Homo sapiens: one gene and its partner. The protein of the gene in region 1 interacts with the protein of each later gene in a pairwise test. Each region holds a gene or a part of one and is shown in the gene's direction. Other genes may lie near its edges.

Region 1 (3,747 bases):
GGCAGGCGAGGAAGGGCACGAGGGCTGCTCCTACACCATGTGCCCCGAAGGCAGGTATGGGCATCCAGGGTACCCTGCCCTGGTGACATACAGCTATGGAGGAGCAGTTCCCAGTTACTGCCCAGCATATGGCCGTGTGCCTCATAGCTGTGGCTCTCCAGGAGAGGGCAGAGGGTATCCCAGCCCTGGTGCCCACTCCCCACGGGCTGGCTCCATTTCCCCGGGCAGCCCGCCCTATCCACAATCTAGGAAGCTGAGCTACGAGATCCCTACGGAGGAGGGAGGGGACAGGTACCCATTGCCTGGGCACCTGGCCTCAGCAGGACCTTTGGCATCTGCAGGTGAGGGGCACCAGAGTGCGGAGTGCCCAGGGCAGAGGAGGTTCTGGAAGATGGTGGGGAAGTCAAGGGGGAACAGGGTGAGAAACAGCTAAGCCAGACAGAAGAGCCCCATCCTGCTCACAGCCCACCTCTCCCCTTCACTGCAGAGTCGCTGGAGCCGGTGTCCTGGAGGGAGGGCCCCAGTGGGCACAGCACACTGCCTCGGTCTCCCCGAGATGCCCCATGCAGTGCTTCGTCAGAGTTGTCTGGTCCCTCCACGCCCCTGCACACCAGCAGTCCAGTCCAGGGCAAGGAAAGGTATGCAGAGGGGCCGGGGATGCTCGAGTGCTTTCTTGTCCAAGCAGTTGATGAAGGCAGGTGGGGTGGGAGCAGCCACAATGGGGGCTCTGCTGACCATCTGCCCTTCCACCCTACAGCACCCGGCGACAGGACACCAGGTCCCCCACCTCAGCGCCCACTCAGAGACTGAGTCCTGGCGAGGCCTTGCCCCCTGTTTCCCAGGCAGGCACCGGAAAGGCCCCTGAGCTGCCGTCGGGAAGTGGGCCTGAGCCTCTGGCCCCTAGCCCAGTCTCTCCGACCTTCCCTCCCAGCTCGCCCAGTGACTGGCCTCAGGAAAGGAGTCCAGGGGGCCACTCAGATGGCGCCAGTCCTCGGAGCCCTGTGCCCACCACACTTCCTGGCCTCCGCCACGCCCCCTGGCAAGGCCCTCGAGGCCCCCCCGACAGCCCAGATGGGTCTCCCCTCACTCCTGTGCCTTCCCAGATGCCCTGGCTTGTGGCCAGCCCAGAGCCGCCTCAGAGCTCACCTACACCTGCTTTCCCCCTGGCTGCCTCCTATGACACCAATGGCCTTAGCCAGCCCCCACTTCCTGAGAAACGCCACCTGCCCGGGCCGGGGCAACAGCCAGGACCCTGGGGCCCAGAGCAGGCATCATCGCCAGCCAGAGGCATCAGTCACCATGTCACCTTCGCACCTCTGCTCTCAGATAATGTCCCCCAAACCCCAGGTATAAAGGCCTTGAGGGGGTTGGTGCCACCTTGAGAGAACCCTTTCTCCTGGGATGTAGCATGGATGGGGACCCGGGTACCCTGGGGTCTGAACCTACTCCCTCCCTGTCCTAGAGCCTCCTACACAAGAGAGCCAAAGCAATGTCAAGTTTGTCCAGGATACATCCAAGTTCTGGTACAAGCCACACCTGTCCCGTGACCAAGGTGAGAAGCCAGCCTGCCCCCACCCCACTGCATCCCACCTTCCAGGGTGTCTGTCTTGGCTTTAAGTCCCATCCTGTTGAAGCTCTTGGCTCCTCCTGTCTGAGCTGTGTTTACTCTTGGCTGAGTGTTTACCAGCAGGTGATTCTGGGCTTTGGGCCAAGGCGGTGAGATCCAACATGGTCAAAACCCCTGTGAACTCTAGAGCCCTGGCCTCAGACTCTTACCGCCACCACAGCTGTCAGGGCAGAGACCATGGAGCTTGGCAGCAGAGGAGGGGGGCTGCATGGGGCTCAGTCCACCCCTGTGAAAACTCCTCCCCACTGCCCGCTACCCCTCACCCTGCAGCCATTGCCCTGCTGAAGGACAAGGACCCTGGGGCCTTCCTGATCAGGGACAGTCATTCATTCCAAGGAGCTTATGGGCTGGCCCTCAAGGTGGCCACACCGCCACCCAGTGCCCAGCCCTGGAAAGGTACAGAACACCCAAACCTGAGTGGGGTGGGGATGAAGTTGGGGGTGGTGCCAGAGGCAAGGTAACAGGGCAGGTGGGGGTGCTGTGCTGGCCATGCCGCTGTAGAGGGGAGAGGTAGGAAAAGACCTCAGCTGCTCGGGAAAGAATCCCATTAGGGAAGAAGCTGGAACCTGGAATCCTAAAGCCGCAATCTTCCCCTCGCCTCCTCTCAGGGGACCCCGTGGAACAGCTGGTCCGCCATTTCCTCATCGAGACTGGGCCCAAAGGGGTGAAGATCAAGGGCTGCCCCAGTGAGCCCTACTTTGGTGAGAAGCAGGAGCCTGGGGAAGGCTACGTTGGGTCGGTTTAGGGAGATGCCAAGGGATCTCAGGAGGATGGAAGGGAAAGGCGGGGCACCCTGGGCATCTCGGGACTTTCCTACCTCCTCTCCCACAGGCAGCCTGTCCGCCTTGGTCTCCCAGCACTCCATCTCCCCCATCTCCCTGCCCTGCTGCCTGCGCATTCCCAGCAAAGGTGAGTGTCTGGTCATCTGTCCTCCCCACCTCTCCCTACCCCCTGCAGCCAAAGCAGGATCCAGAGGTCTTGGCTCCCCGCCTTCCCTTGGGGAAGCAGAGGGAGTGCTCCAGCCTGGGGAACACTCTGCCTTCTGAGCTTCCCTGTCGGTTCTCATTGCCCTCAGATCCTCTGGAAGAGACCCCAGAGGCTCCAGTGCCCACCAACATGAGCACAGCGGCAGACCTCCTGCGTCAGGGTGCTGGTAGAGACTTCCCCTCCACTCCCCTCCCTCTCCCTGGGCACCAAGGGGGCATTGTGGATACAGGGCATGGGGCACTGAAAGGCCTTGAGGTGGGTGAGCCCTGGCCAACCCATGAGGGCAGGGGAGCCCCATACTGTCGGGGATGAGGAATTGGGTCCTCAGCCTAGGTTCTCAAAGTCTCATGAACAAGACGATCATGGGGTGGTAGCAGGGAGGCTTCTCTGCCTCGCTTCTGACTGTAGATCCAGTAGAGTCATGGAATCTGCCTTTTTAACAAGTCACCTATGTGATTGTAAAGCATGTGACAGCAGTAGCTGGGGAATGTGCAAGAGCTGGTGGGGGTGGCTAGGGGATGGGCACTCCCTCCCTGACCCACTCCCTGCCCCTGTAGCCTGCAGCGTGCTCTACTTGACCTCAGTGGAGACAGAGTCACTGACGGGCCCCCAAGCTGTGGCCCGGGCCAGCTCTGCAGCTCTGAGCTGTAGCCCCCGCCCGACACCAGCTGTTGTCCACTTCAAGGTGTCAGCCCAGGGCATTACACTGACGGACAACCAAAGGAAGTATGTATACTCAGCCCTGTAGAACCCCATGCTTAAGGCCCCTGGGGGCTCATGTTTCTGAGTGTGACCTTCCTCACCCTCCTCCTTGCAGGCTCTTCTTTCGCCGCCATTATCCAGTGAACAGCATCACCTTCTCCAGCACTGACCCTCAAGACCGGAGGTGACTCTCCCTCCAAACCCTTTGCCCCAAATCCCCATGGTCCCACCAGGTCCCAGCTCCCAGCCCCAGCCCCAGCCCCGGCCCCGGCCCCCCTTCAGCAGCTGTCCCCTGGGGTGTGCATCTTCACCTTCTTCTCCTTCTGCAGATGGACCAACCCAGACGGGACCACCTCCAAGTAAGCCTCCCCACGAATTCAGCCTCTTCCTTCCAAGGGACCAGGGCGCTGCTGTCCTCTCAATGCTGGCAT
Region 2 (3,747 bases), on another chromosome or scaffold:
GATGTTTTACAGTTTTCTTTATAGGGACTCTGCATTTCTAAGGTTTAATCTTGTTTCTTGTTGCTATTTGTTGAATAGATTTTTTTCCATTCATATTTTCTGATTAGGTGTTACTGGTATATAAGAAAGCTATCAGTTTGGTTGTTTTTTTGTTTTGTTTTGTTTTGTTTTGTTTTGTTTGTTTGTTTATTTGCTTTTTTTCTTTTGAGATGGAGTCTCACTCTGTTGCCCAGGCTGGAGTGCAATGGCGCGATCTTGGCTCACTGCAAACTCCACCTCCCAGGTTCAAGCAATTCTCATGCCTCAGCCTTGGGAGGAGCTGGAATTACAGGCACGTGCCACCACACCCAGCTAATTTTTGTATTTTTAGAAGAGACGGGGTTTCACCATGTCACCCAGGCTGGTCTTGAACTCCTGACTGTTGGGATCAGGCCCCCCCAAAATCTGGCTATAAACTGGCCCCAAAACCGGCCATAAACAAAATCTCTGTAGCACCGTGAAATGTTCATGATGGCCATAATGCCCACGCTGGAAGGTTGTGGTTGTGGGTTTACCGGAATGAGGGCAAGGAACACCTGGCCGGCCCAGGGTGGAAAACCCCTTAAAGGCATTCTTAAGCCACAAACAATAGCATGAGCGATCTGTGCCTTAAGGACATGCTCCTGCTACAGTTAACTAGCCCAACCTATTCCTTTAATTCGGCCCATCCCTTCGTTTCCCATAAGGGATACTTTTAGTTAAATTAATATCTATAGAAACAATGCTAATGACTGGCTTGCTGTTAATAAATACGTGGGTAAATCTCTGTTCAGGGCTCTCAGCTCTGAAGGCTGTGAGACCCCTGATTTCCCACTTCACACCTCTATATTTCTGTGTGTGTGTCTTTAATTCCTCTAGCGCCGCTGGGTTAGGGTCTCCCCGACCGAGCTGGTCTCAGCACCTGACCTCAGGTGATCCACCCACCTTGGCCTCCCAAAGTGCTGGGATTACAGGCATGAGCCACTGTGCCCGACCAGAAAGCTATCAATTTGGATACATATTTCTGATCATTAATTCTGGAAAGGTTGCAGGTTAGGGTTAGTTTAGGTTAGTTAGGGTTAGTTTAGATTAGGTCAAGTTTAGCAGTGTTTCGCCTTGTGCTCACAAGTGGCTCAGAAGCTGCCTCTCTTGAAAGTGCTTTCACCCTAGCGGGTAGGGGCTCCTTGGTGATGAAGAGGGAGCAGTGCTTGTTAGCAGAAAGTCCAGGGAGTGAGGATGATGAGGAGCAGGAGAAGGCAGTGGCCCTGGAGGAGATCCTGGAAGCTCATCCCAGATCAGGAGACTCCAAATGTGCCTGTCCCAGTGTGTGACCATGTGCAGGGTCCTCTGGAATGACAGGCACACTGCTTTGTCACATCAAGACAGTCAGGAATTCCAAAAAGAGTGATAGGAATGTCTCACTGCGATGTGGCTTTTGATCACCTAAAGAAAACTGGAAAGCCAGTTGCTGCTAATAACGTTGATCTATTGTTTTTGTTTTGGATTATTCCTTAGGGAAATTTTCAAGATTGAAATTCCTGAGTTTGAAAAATTAGCTCCTTATGCTGCCACCTTTGTAACCAGTGGGTGGGAGGGATCATTGCTCAGCCAGTGCCCTGAGTGGGTGTTCTTTATATTGCCCATTTGTTAGCTGTTGGCATGGCCTCAAGAGGGGGCTCCTCAAACTCCACTTCCAGTATTCTGTGGCGGTGATCTCCAGCCTGTCCCAGCCCCTGGCCCTGGAGCCTGGCATCTATAGAGGACTCGTCATTAGCCTGTCTTAATTTTTTAAAACTGTCCACATCATCCTCCTTCCCTGCCTGAACTGTGTTCTCATGGAGCAAAGCTTGGAGTTGGACGTCAGAATCCCGTGAAGTGTGGATGGAGTGTGTTGTTAAAAGCCAGTTTCTGGCACCCCCGATAGCTCTTACATTTTCCTGTCTTGAGTATGCAAGGTTTAGGTTGAGGTCCATGGTGTTTGCCTGGCCTGGTATCCTGTTACAGGCTCGTTCCAGGAAACTGAAACCTTTATCTGCCATAGTGTAAGTAAGGAAAAAATTTAAACTAGTTAATACCACTTTTAAAATGTATTTTGTTCATATTTTTTTTTAATTTTTATTTATTTATTTATTTATTTTGAGACAGGGATTCATTCTGTTGCCCAGGGTGGAGTGTAGTGGTGCAGTTACAGCTTACTGCAGCCTTGACCTCCTGGGCTCAAGCAATCTTCCCATCTCAGCCTCCAGAGTACCTAGGTCTACAAACCAGCTAATTTTTTAAATTTTTTTATAGAGACGGGGTCTCACTATATTGTCCAGGGTGTTCTTGAACTCCTGAACTCAAGCAATTCTCCCACCTTGGCCTCCCAAAGTACTGGGATTATAGGTGTGAGTCACCATGCCCAGCCATTTTTGTTCATTTATTACCAGAATACAATCAGACTTTGTGATAGGATTTTTTTTTTTTTTTTTTTTTTGAGACAGAGTCTTGCTCTGTTATGCAGGCTGGAGTGCAGTGGCACAATCTTGGCTCACTGCAACCTCTGTCTCCCAGGTTCAAGCTATTTTCTTGCCTCAGCCTCCTGAGTAGCTGGGATTACAGGTGCCTGCCACCATGCCTGACTAACTTTTTGTATTTTTAGTAGAGACGGGGTTTCACTATGTTGGCCAGGCTGGTCTCGAACTCCTGACCTTTTGATCCGCCCGCCTCGGCCTCCCAAAGTGCTGGGATTACAGGTATGAGCCACTGCGCCTGGCCGATTTTTTTTTTAATTAGCAATATGTGATGGTCATCTTTCAATAGAGACCTGATACTGCATTTTGTGTGATGCTTTTCTAAGACTCACCCCAGGTGGCAGTCTTTCCCTTTCACTTCTCCTTGCCACACACTTGTTGACAGCCTGGTATTGTCCTTTGGAGTATTTCCTCTGTGTGTTAATCAAATAGATAATAACACCTTATCCAGCAGCATCCTCCTCTGAGCCAAGCCTGTTCTTAGCGCTCTCCTCTCACCAACCACATGATCTCCAGGCCTTCAGAGGAGTGTGTCATCTGGATTTATAGGTGGGGCCTCAATGCAGCTGGCCCAAGTGAGGCAGGTGAACCAGTCCCAGGTCCTTGTGACACACATACCCTTCATGGGCTCGGGGTCATAGTTTACAAAATGAGATTTTCCCCTGCATGCTGGCCCCATGCTGCATTTTCACTCACCCATCTGGTGACCTGACACAACATACATCTTTCTCTTTAGCAGGTGTGTAACTTGTATGTGGAAGGACCAACGTAGCATTTGCCTCAGCAACATCCTTGAATCTGCACCCTCACCCACATCCATTCTTATCAGGTACCCACTATCCAAGGGCCAGTCTGATTTGCCTAAATACTGCTAGGTCGCCTTCTTAAGAGTATGAGAAACTCCACTTTCCCATGCCTGCCAGTTTAAAGTGTTGACTCCGTACTTGGCTATTACAGATGGCATAAAGTGTGAGCTCATTCCTCTTCATTCATTTATTCAACAAACAGGCCGGGTGTGGTGTTCTCAGGCCTGTAATCTTGACACTTTCGGAGGCCAAGGAGGGAGGATCCCTTGAGCCTAGGAGTTCAAGACCAGTCTGGGCAACACAGCAAGACCTCGTCTCTACCAAAAAAAAAAAATTAAGAAATTATCCAGGCATGGTGGTGCAACCTGTATTCCTAGCTACTTGGGATGCTGAAGTGGGAGGATCACCTG

What was found. The genes of interacting proteins can lie anywhere in the genome.
Region 2: the proteins of TNS2 (region 1) and ZNF250 interact in binary tests that used the Homo sapiens proteins (3 or more experiments, as listed by UniProt).

What each region holds. Positions count from the first base shown.
Region 1 is NC_000012.12:53,059,918-53,063,664, forward strand, and holds part of TNS2 (tensin-2), read left to right. Parts: coding exon 1-341; intron 342-487; coding exon 488-638; intron 639-757; coding exon 758-1,347; intron 1,348-1,462; coding exon 1,463-1,552; intron 1,553-1,897; coding exon 1,898-2,023; intron 2,024-2,235; coding exon 2,236-2,328; intron 2,329-2,458; coding exon 2,459-2,536; intron 2,537-2,702; coding exon 2,703-2,780; intron 2,781-3,171; coding exon 3,172-3,340; intron 3,341-3,431; coding exon 3,432-3,500; intron 3,501-3,645; coding exon 3,646-3,675; intron 3,676-3,747. UniProt on the Homo sapiens protein: Tyrosine-protein phosphatase which regulates cell motility, proliferation and muscle-response to insulin. Phosphatase activity is mediated by binding to phosphatidylinositol-3,4,5-triphosphate (PtdIns(3,4,5)P3) via the SH2 domain.
Region 2 is NC_000008.11:144,894,756-144,898,502, reverse strand, and holds part of ZNF250 (zinc finger protein 250), read left to right. Parts: intron 1-3,270; exon of another isoform or gene 3,271-3,360; intron 3,361-3,747. UniProt on the Homo sapiens protein: May be involved in transcriptional regulation.